3 linked regions of the Homo sapiens genome follow. The protein of the gene in region 3 interacts with the protein of the main gene of each other region in a biochemical or structural test. Each region holds a gene or a part of one and is shown on either strand. Other genes may lie near its edges.

Region 1 (3,653 bases), on a different chromosome or scaffold from region 3:
ACAAAGTGGAACAAAGGTCATGAGTGAACCGTTGTCATGTGCTGCAAGATTACAGGCTGTTGCAAGCATGGTGGAAAAAAGGGCTAGTCCTGCCACCTCACCTAAACCTAGTGTTGCTTGTAGCCAGTTAGCATTACTTCTGTCAAGCGAAGCCCATTTGCAGCAGTATTCTCGAGAACACGCTTTAAAAACGCAAAATGCAAATCAAGCAGCAAGTGAAAGACTTGCTGCTATGGCCAGATTGCAAGAAAATGGCCAGAAGGATGTTGGCAGTTACCAGCTCCCAAAAGGAATGTCAAGCCATCTTAATGGTCAGGCAAGAACATCATCAAGCAAACTGATGGCTAGCAAAAGTAGTGCTACAGTGTTTCAAAATCCAATGGGTATCATTCCTTCTTCCCCTAAAAATGCAGGTTATAAGAACTCACTGGAAAGAAACAATATAAAACAAGCTGCTAACAATAGTTTGCTTTTACATCTTCTTAAAAGCCAGACTATACCTAAGCCAATGAATGGACACAGTCACAGTGAGAGAGGAAGCATTTTTGAGGAAAGTAGTACACCTACAACTATTGATGAATATTCAGATAACAATCCTAGTTTTACAGATGACAGCAGTGGTGATGAAAGTTCTTATTCCAACTGTGTTCCCATAGACTTGTCTTGCAAACACCGAACTGAAAAATCAGAATCTGACCAACCTGTTTCCCTGGATAACTTCACTCAATCCTTGCTAAACACTTGGGATCCAAAAGTCCCAGATGTAGATATCAAAGAAGATCAAGATACCTCAAAGAATTCTAAGCTAAACTCACACCAGAAAGTAACACTTCTTCAATTGCTACTTGGCCATAAGAATGAAGAAAATGTAGAAAAAAACACCAGCCCTCAGGGAGTACACAATGATGTGAGCAAGTTCAATACACAAAATTATGCAAGGACTTCTGTGATAGAAAGCCCCAGTACAAATCGGACTACTCCAGTGAGCACTCCACCTTTACTTACATCAAGCAAAGCAGGGTCTCCCATCAATCTCTCTCAACACTCTCTGGTCATCAAATGGAATTCCCCACCATATGTCTGCAGTACTCAGTCTGAAAAGCTAACAAATACTGCATCTAACCACTCAATGGACCTTACAAAAAGCAAAGACCCACCAGGAGAGAAACCAGCCCAAAATGAAGGTGCACAGAACTCTGCAACGTTTAGTGCCAGTAAGCTGTTACAAAATTTAGCACAATGTGGAATGCAGTCATCCATGTCAGTGGAAGAGCAGAGACCCAGCAAACAGCTGTTAACTGGAAACACAGATAAACCGATAGGTATGATTGATAGATTAAATAGCCCTTTGCTCTCAAATAAAACAAATGCAGTTGAAGAAAATAAAGCATTTAGTAGTCAACCAACAGGTCCTGAACCAGGGCTTTCTGGTTCTGAAATAGAAAATCTGCTTGAAAGACGTACTGTCCTCCAGTTGCTCCTGGGGAACCCCAACAAAGGGAAGAGTGAAAAAAAAGAGAAAACTCCCTTAAGAGATGAAAGTACTCAGGAACACTCAGAGAGAGCTTTAAGTGAACAAATACTGATGGTGAAAATAAAATCTGAGCCTTGTGATGACTTACAAATTCCTAACACAAATGTGCACTTGAGCCATGATGCTAAGAGTGCCCCATTCTTGGGTATGGCTCCTGCTGTGCAGAGAAGCGCACCTGCCTTACCAGTGTCCGAAGACTTTAAATCGGAGCCTGTTTCACCTCAGGATTTTTCTTTCTCCAAGAATGGTCTGCTAAGTCGATTGCTAAGACAAAATCAAGATAGTTACCTGGCAGATGATTCAGACAGGAGTCACAGAAATAATGAAATGGCACTTCTAGAATCAAAGAATCTTTGCATGGTCCCTAAGAAAAGGAAGCTTTATACTGAGCCATTAGAAAATCCATTTAAAAAGATGAAAAACAACATTGTTGATGCTGCAAACAATCACAGTGCCCCAGAAGTACTGTATGGGTCCTTGCTTAACCAGGAAGAGCTGAAATTTAGCAGAAATGATCTTGAATTTAAATATCCTGCTGGTCATGGCTCAGCCAGCGAAAGTGAACACAGGAGTTGGGCCAGAGAGAGCAAAAGCTTTAATGTTCTGAAACAGCTGCTTCTCTCAGAAAACTGTGTGCGAGATTTGTCCCCGCACAGAAGTAACTCTGTGGCTGACAGTAAAAAGAAAGGACACAAAAATAATGTGACCAACAGCAAACCTGAATTTAGCATTTCTTCTTTAAATGGACTGATGTACAGTTCCACTCAGCCCAGCAGTTGCATGGATAACAGGACATTTTCATACCCAGGTGTAGTAAAAACTCCTGTGAGTCCTACTTTCCCTGAGCACTTGGGCTGTGCAGGGTCTAGACCAGAATCTGGGCTTTTGAATGGGTGTTCCATGCCCAGTGAGAAAGGACCCATTAAGTGGGTTATCACTGATGCGGAGAAGAATGAGTATGAAAAAGACTCTCCAAGATTGACCAAAACCAACCCAATACTATATTACATGCTTCAAAAAGGAGGCAATTCTGTTACCAGTCGAGAAACACAAGACAAGGACATTTGGAGGGAGGCTTCATCTGCTGAAAGTGTCTCACAGGTCACAGCCAAAGAAGAGTTACTTCCTACTGCAGAAACGAAAGCTTCTTTCTTTAATTTAAGAAGCCCTTACAATAGCCATATGGGAAATAATGCTTCTCGCCCACACAGCGCAAATGGAGAAGTTTATGGACTTCTGGGAAGCGTGCTAACGATAAAGAAAGAATCAGAATAAAATGTACCTGCCATCCAGTTTTGGATCTTTTTAAAACTAATGAGTATGAACTTGAGATCTGTATAAATAAGAGCATGATTTGAAAAAAAGCATGGTATAATTGAAACTTTTTTCATTTTGAAAAGTATTGGTTACTGGTGATGTTGAAATATGCATACTAATTTTTGCTTAACATTAGATGTCATGAGGAAACTACTGAACTAGCAATTGGTTGTTTAACACTTCTGTATGCATCAGATAACAACTGTGAGTAGCCTATGAATGAAATTCTTTTATAAATATTAGGCATAAATTAAAATGTAAAACTCCATTCATAGTGGATTAATGCATTTTGCTGCCTTTATTAGGGTACTTTATTTTGCTTTTCAGAAGTCAGCCTACATAACACATTTTTAAAGTCTAAACTGTTAAACAACTCTTTAAAGGATAATTATCCAATAAAAAAAAACCTAGTGCTGATTCACAGCTTATTATCCAATTCAAAAATAAATTAGAAAAATATATGCTTACATTTTTCACTTTTGCTAAAAAGAAAAAAAAAAGGTGTTTATTTTTAACTCTTGGAAGAGGTTTTGTGGTTCCCAATGTGTCTGTCCCACCCTGATCCTTTTCAATATATATTTCTTTAAACCTTGTGCTACTTAGTAAAAATTGATTACAATTGAGGGAAGTTTGATAGATCCTTTAAAAAAAAGGCAGATTTCCATTTTTTGTATTTTAACTACTTTACTAAATTAATACTCCTCCTTTTACAGAATTAGAAAAGTTAACATTTATCTTTAGGTGGTTTCCTGAAAAGTTGAATATTTAAGAAATTGTTTTTAACAGAAGCAAAATGGCTTTT
Region 2 (3,170 bases), on a different chromosome or scaffold from region 3:
GGAGGCGGAGCTTGCAGTGAGCCGAGATCGCGCCACTGCACTCCAGCCTGGGTGACAGAGCCAGATTCCGACTCAAAAAAAAAAAAAAAAAAAAAAAAAACACCAAGCGCACTCTTCCCCAAGGCTTTTCCACTTGCCATTTCCTCTACCTGAAATGCTTTTCTCCTAGATAGCCACATGGCTAGTCTTGTCTTTTCTTTTCTTTCTATTTTTTTTGATAGAGTCTCATACTCTGTTGCCCAGGCTGGAGTGCAGTGGCGCCATCTCGGCTCACTGCAACCTCCGCCTCCTGCGTTCAAGTGATTCTCCTGCCTCAGCCTCCTGCATAGCTGGGATTACAGGCATGTGCCACCACACCCAGCTAATTTTTTGTATTTTTAGTAGAGATGAGCTTTCACCATGTTGACCACGCTGGTCTCAAACTCCTGGCCTCAGGCGATCTGCCCACCTCCGCCTCCCAAAGTGCTCAGATTACAGGTGTGTTTTTTATTTTCTATCTGTTGAGTATAGTGCCTGTCACCTAGTAGGTGCTCAATAACTTAATTAATGCTTTCTCTGTGCCAGGTAACTGTGCTATGCTCCCAAAGGAGGATGTAACTGGGGCTCACGGAAGTTAATTTGCCCAAGTTAATTCAACTAAAAACTTGTGCAGGCCGAGCACGGTGGCTCACACCTCTAATCCCAGCACTTTGGAAGGCTGAGACAAGAGGATTGTTGAGGTCAGGAATTCAAGACCAGCCTGGTCAACAGAGTGAGATGTCCTCTCTAGGAAAAGAAGAAGGAAGAAGAAGTTGTACAGTCAGTATTCAAACTCAAGTTTACCTGACTCCCAAACTCTTGCTTTTTCCATATCACACGATTCTCACTATGGAAGAATGAAAGGAAACTGTAGAAGTCAAAGGATCTTGGTCTGAATTCAAGATCTTGGTTTGATCTTGGATCTTTTGCAGAAGTCAAAAGATTTTGGTTTGAATTCAATCTATATTACTTATTTTGTGACCTTGGTTCTGTCACCAGAATCTAAGCCTGTCCACATTTCTAAAAAATGTGATTGGGCTGGGTGCAGTGGCTCACGCCTGTAATCCCAGCACTTTGGGAGGCCGAGGTGAGTGGATCACTTGAGGTCAGGAGTTCGAGACCAGCCTGGCCAACATGGTGAAACCCCGTCTCTACTAAAAATACAAAAAAAAAAAAAAATTAGCAGGGCGTGATGGTGGGTGCCTGTAATCCCAGCTAGTCAGGAGGCTGAGGCAGGGAGAATTGCTTGAACCCAGGGGGCAGAGGTTGCAGTGAGCCGAGATTGCTCCATTGCACTCCAGCCTGGGCGACAGAGTGACAGACTCCATCTCAAAACAAAACAAAACAAACAAAAAAATATATATATACACATATATATACACATATATACACATATATACATGTATACACATATATATACATATATACACATATATATACACACACATATACACACACACACACACACACACACACACACACACACACACACACACACACATATATATATGATGAATACCAGCCCTGCCTATCCTGGGGTTGTTTCATTCAGTGGGATTTAACCTCAGAAGTTTTGAAATTTTGCTAAAACATCAGATAAAGGTTTATTTGAAAGGATTATTTGATTATTTTTGAAGGATTATTTGAAAACATCATATAAAGTGATGTTCTAGGTATGAAGACCCCTCCCTCTACACTGTTTCCCCAAAAGCCCTCGCACCTTTCCTCACATCTTTCATACTTTCCTCGCCACCCTTCCCTTCTCCCCCACAGTGCAGTTTTCTGCTGCAGTTCTTCACAGGTTGGTGGAAGTGTATAGGAGCCCCCTGCCTCCTGGAGCCTCTAGGACTTTAGCCAAGCCCAAGAAAGTCTCAGGAATTCCCCCCACTGCCCCCATCCTTCGTTGTGCAGGGCAGCTGAGGGGCCCCAGATCAGGGACCAGCAGAGAGAAATGCTCTGCTGGTCTCAACAGCTTTGTCATGATCTCTTGCCTGGCACAGTGATACTGTCGGCAGAAGCCCTGGCATTGCGGCGAGCAAAGCAGGCCCAGCGGCGGGCACAGCAAACACCTGTGCAACTGAGTAAGGAGCAAGAAGAGCTGATCCGGACACTCCTGGGGGCCCACACCCGCCACATGGGCACCATGTTTGAACAGTTTGTGCAGTTTAGGGTGAGCACCGACAGGATTTGGGTTGGAATACAACTAAAAGGGCACCCAAAAATGCTGGTCTGAAGGAGAGGGGTGTATGCCATGCACTGATACTGAGAACAGATCTCCAGAACCCCAGCCTGAGCAGGCTTCTCAGCAAGGAACTCTTCCAAGATAAGGCTGGCGAGGCCTAAAGGAGGGCCCTAGGGCCAGAGCCTCTAGCTAATGTTCTGATCATTGCAGCCTCCAGCTCATCTGTTCATCCATCACCAGCCCTTGCCCACCCTGGCCCCTGTGCTGCCTCTGGTCACACACTTCGCAGACATCAACACTTTCATGGTACTGCAAGTCATCAAGTTTACTAAGGACCTGCCCGTCTTCCGGTGAGTGACCTCCCCTCATCTTTCAGGAGGCAAACACTTCAGTAAATTGTATATCCACCCCGAAAAGTCACTGACTACAAATTATCACATGCGTCAGCCTTTCCAAGCATTAGGTCTTGAATTCCCAGCTTTGGTTTTAAATGTGCCAATCAGAACTGGGAGTTCTTCTCCATCTCTGAAGTACAGGCTTGCATCTAAAGTGCCCTTGAGGTGCCGCGCAGTGGCTCACACTAGTAATCCCAGCACTTTGGGAGGCGGAGGCTGGCAGATCGCTTGAGTCCAGAAGTTTGAGACCAGCCTCAGCAACATGACAAAACCCCAACTCTACAAAAAATACAAAAATTAGCTGGGCATGATGGTGGGTGCCTGTAGTCCCAGGTACTCAGGAAGCTGAAGTGGGAGGATCACTTGAGCCCAGGAGGTTGAGGCTGCAGTGAGCTCAGATAGCACCGCTGCATTCCAGCCTGGGTGACAGAGTGAGACTCTGTCTCAAAAAATGAAAGCTAAAAATAATAATAATAGGCCAGGCACGGTGGCTCATGCCTGTAATCCCAGCACTTTGAGAGGCCAAGGTGGGTGGATCACTTGAGCTCAGGAATTTGAGACCAGCCTGGCCAACA
Region 3 (4,207 bases):
CACAGCTGTGTGGCAAGTGAAGACTAATGGATCCAGGCTTCCTGATGCTTCTATTTATCATTATTCACTTAGGAAGGGTGGGAAAAGAAATACTAATTACACACTTACCAATGGAATACTTTTACAAGGATCAAAATTTCTCACTGCGGCCATGAAAAAGAATGAGAGCTGGCGGCCATCATGCTTAGCAAAGTAATGCAGGAACAGAAAACCAAATATCACATGTTCTCACTTGCAAGTGGGAGCTAAATAAAGAGATCACCTGGACACTAGGAGGGGAACAACAGACACTGGAACCTACTTGAAGGTGGAGGGTGGGAAGAGGGAGAGAATGAGAAAAAATACCTATTGGATACTATTACCTGGGTGATGAAATAATCTGTACACCAAACCCCCACGACAAGCAATTCACTTATATAACAAACCCGCACATGTACTCCTGAACCTAAAAGTTAAAAGAAAAAAAAATATATACTAAAATGAAAACAATTCTCACTGTAACAATATTATCCCCTCGTAATTATTATATTCCTAAGTTTTAGGCACTTTTACATCCTGCTCGCTGCCCCCAGCTCTCTTAACACAGCATCCAGGACATAGTGGGCGCTTATAAATACTGATGGCATTAAACTGAGCGCTTATGATAGCATATTTAGAGCAGTGCTTTTCAAACGTCTAGGTGCATGTGAATCCCTGGGGACACCGTTAAAATGCAGATTCAGAGTTAGAAAGTCTGGTTGGAGCCTGAGATTGGGCATTTCCACCGAGTTCCCATATGATGCTTGTCTATGTTCTGTATTTTTCAAGGTCTCAGAAAATGAGACCTCCCTATCCATATACAAATATAAGTCACACAAACTGTGATAATTTAATGAAAGTTTACAAAGAGCATAGAAGTAGATGTTTCCTCTTTTCCCCTGCCCTCCCAATAAAGGGAACAAATTAGATGCGAGGGTTCAATGGAAAGAGTTGCAACAGCATCCAGGCGCTCGCTCTCCTCCGGTCTTCCTGAGACAGGGAAAGGGGTAATGAGAGGAAGGAGGAAAGTGTCCAGGAGCTCCCACGCTGCTGTTCTTCCATTTCCAGCTTTTAAAGAGCACCCGCCCCTTCGAACCACCGAGGTCATGGGCGAACACACCGGAGCGCAGCACCGCGCCCCCCCGCACACACCGCCCGCCTCCGCGCCCTTGCCCAGACCGAGGCGGCCGACGCGCCTGCGTGCGCGCTAGGTATAAATAGGTCCCAGGAGGCAGCCACTGGGCAGAACTGGGCTACGGGCGCCGCGGGCCATGGCGGGCGAGAACCACCAGTGGCAGGGCAGCATCCTCTACAACATGCTTATGAGCGCGAAGCAAACGCGCGCGGCTCCTGAGGCTCCAGAGACGCGGCTGGTGGATCAGTGCTGGGGCTGTTCGTGCGGCGATGAGCCCGGGGTGGGCAGAGAGGGGCTGCTGGGCGGGCGGAACGTGGCGCTCCTGTACCGCTGCTGCTTTTGCGGTAAAGACCACCCACGGCAGGGCAGCATCCTCTACAGCATGCTGACGAGCGCAAAGCAAACGTACGCGGCACCGAAGGCGCCCGAGGCGACGCTGGGTCCGTGCTGGGGCTGTTCGTGCGGCTCTGATCCCGGGGTGGGCAGAGCGGGGCTTCCGGGTGGGCGGCCCGTGGCACTCCTGTACCGCTGCTGCTTTTGTGGTGAAGACCACCCGCGGCAGGGCAGCATCCTCTACAGCTTGCTCACTAGCTCAAAGCAAACGCACGTGGCTCCGGCAGCGCCCGAGGCACGGCCAGGGGGCGCGTGGTGGGACCGCTCCTACTTCGCGCAGAGGCCAGGGGGTAAAGAGGCGCTACCAGGCGGGCGGGCCACGGCGCTTCTGTACCGCTGCTGCTTTTGCGGTGAAGACCACCCGCAGCAGGGCAGCACCCTCTACTGCGTGCCCACGAGCACAAATCAAGCGCAGGCGGCTCCGGAGGAGCGGCCGAGGGCCCCCTGGTGGGACACCTCCTCTGGTGCGCTGCGGCCGGTGGCGCTCAAGAGTCCACAGGTGGTCTGCGAGGCAGCCTCAGCGGGCCTGTTGAAGACGCTGCGCTTCGTCAAGTACTTGCCCTGCTTCCAGGTGCTGCCCCTGGACCAGCAGCTGGTGCTGGTGCGCAACTGCTGGGCGTCCCTGCTCATGCTTGAGCTGGCCCAGGACCGCTTGCAGTTCGAGACTGTGGAAGTCTCGGAGCCCAGCATGCTGCAGAAGATCCTCACCACCAGGCGGCGGGAGACCGGGGGCAACGAGCCACTGCCCGTGCCCACGCTGCAGCACCATTTGGCACCGCCGGCGGAGGCCAGGAAGGTGCCCTCCGCCTCCCAGGTCCAAGCCATCAAGTGCTTTCTTTCCAAATGCTGGAGTCTGAACATCAGTACCAAGGAGTACGCCTACCTCAAGGGGACCGTGCTCTTTAACCCGGGTAAGGGTACTGGCCTTAGGCGCCGGCTTTTCCCAGCTCACAAAAGCATCGGGCAGTGCCTATCTAGGGGCGCGGGCAGTAACGAGTTTTCAGTGATCAGGAGAGTGTCGGGGCAAAGGTGAAGAAATCGTGACTAACTCAGCAGAGTTGGGGTGGGGAGCTCCAGGAACCACTTCTGCTGGGTGGGCTGCTATCAGAAACTCAGCCAAGAGGAGGGGAGTTGTTTGTTTAGGTTTGTACTTGGCTCTCTACACATTTCTTACCATAGAAAAGTTTGTGCCTTCATGGGAAATGGTTATTCTTTCTTCTTTAGCTTTCTTTTAAGTCCAGAGCATATCTTTTTCTAAAAAAAGTTTTTGCTCACTGAAGATTCTGCAACATCGATTTCTGAAACCCCATTCTGAAATTTACTAGAACCTTTTTTGGGGGGAGGAAATCTATTAAGGCTAGCAAAAAAGGAAACATTTGTTAAAGGGTCCCATAGAGAGACTATTCCCTAGGGACACACAAGACACTAGATGTAGTGTTTCATGGGCCTGCCTCTGAATGGTTATTTGTATGGTCCTAAGCATCTGGACTATCCCTTCCTCCAAATCTCTGTGAATAATATCAGGTTGGCAAAGGGATAGGGAAAAAAGACACATTAGGGACTGAGAGCAGGAGCACTGTATTTTAGAATTCAAAGAGACTTTAGAGACCTGCTAATCAACCCCCTTTGCTCTGTAGCCTCCCCCCACCCCATTTTACTGAGTAGGTAGATGTGTCCCAAGGTCCCAAGTAAATGGTTGGTGTGTTGTGGCACCTGAGGGTCCTGTCTTCTGGGCCCAGTGGGATATTGGCTGCACTAAACTTTCAGGTTGTCTGTTGGGTGCTGGACACACTGTCCCACAGAGTGCAACCAAATCACTGGAGGAACGTCTCCCTGGACAGCCAGGCACCTTGTCTTGGGTGTTTCTCACTATTAGAATCATCTTCAACCAGCGTCCTTTCAAAATGATTGAAGTGGGAACAAAATTTTCCAGGCAACTTGAGTTGGGATAGTTTTTATAATGCTCCTTTTGTATCTTTTTTCCCTGGTGCTGGAATCTCTGATTAAGTCCCTGCCCCCTGCCTAGCATTTTTGAGGGTGCATAGATCAGTATTTGGTGGGATAATAATTTGTTCAAACCTCACGTTTCATGACGTAGAGACCTCAGCTCACCCCAGTGTCTATTATATGTTACCTTTTTGCTTATACCATTGTTTTCCAAACTTGCCTGTGCATAAGAAGTACTTGTGTGTGTGTGGTTGGGGGTGGGAGGGAGTAGATAAAAGTCTTTCTAGGCTCCTGCCTTATATATTCTGATTCAGTAGCTCTGGCCCAGGGTCTGCAAATCTGCATTCATAATAAGTGTCGCAGATGATTCTTAAGATTATTTGGAAAACAGTCTTCTTATTCCTTCAGCCAGTGTTACTAATCATCCACTATGTTCCTCGTCCTGTTGGGATATAAAGGTGAGAGGGGCTCAGCTTCCAGAAATTTACATTCCATTAGTTTCAGTATCAACAGTTTCCCTTGACTCTGTTTTATATACTTTTAACACACACACACACACACACACACACACACACACACACATTCTTCCTTATTCTTGATTGACTTTTCCTAATCCTCTCTCAATATGAGTTTAACCAGCTAAGCTGAGTGTGTTTGAAACACAAATGTACCTATATTTGGGAGAAAGGTAATGCCTATTAAGAGTGTGGCCTC

The links.
Region 1: the proteins of NR0B1 (region 3) and NRIP1 form a complex in vitro, tested with the Homo sapiens proteins (one study listed by BioGRID).
Region 2: the proteins of NR0B1 (region 3) and NR1I3 form a complex in vitro, tested with the Homo sapiens proteins (one study listed by BioGRID).

What each region holds. Positions count from the first base shown.
Region 1 is NC_000021.9:14,963,872-14,967,524, reverse strand, and holds part of NRIP1 (nuclear receptor-interacting protein 1), read left to right. Parts: coding exon 1-2,809; 3' UTR 2,810-3,653. UniProt on the Homo sapiens protein: Modulates transcriptional activation by steroid receptors such as NR3C1, NR3C2 and ESR1. Also modulates transcriptional repression by nuclear hormone receptors.
Region 2 is NC_000001.11:161,232,187-161,235,356, reverse strand, and holds part of NR1I3 (nuclear receptor subfamily 1 group I member 3), read left to right. Parts: intron 1-2,018; coding exon 2,019-2,188; intron 2,189-2,410; coding exon 2,411-2,550; intron 2,551-3,170. UniProt on the Homo sapiens protein: Binds and transactivates the retinoic acid response elements that control expression of the retinoic acid receptor beta 2 and alcohol dehydrogenase 3 genes.
Region 3 is NC_000023.11:30,306,446-30,310,652, reverse strand, and holds the start of NR0B1 (nuclear receptor subfamily 0 group B member 1), read left to right. Parts: upstream 1-1,262; 5' UTR 1,263-1,289; coding exon 1,290-2,457; intron 2,458-4,207. UniProt on the Homo sapiens protein: Nuclear receptor that lacks a DNA-binding domain and acts as a corepressor that inhibits the transcriptional activity of other nuclear receptors through heterodimeric interactions.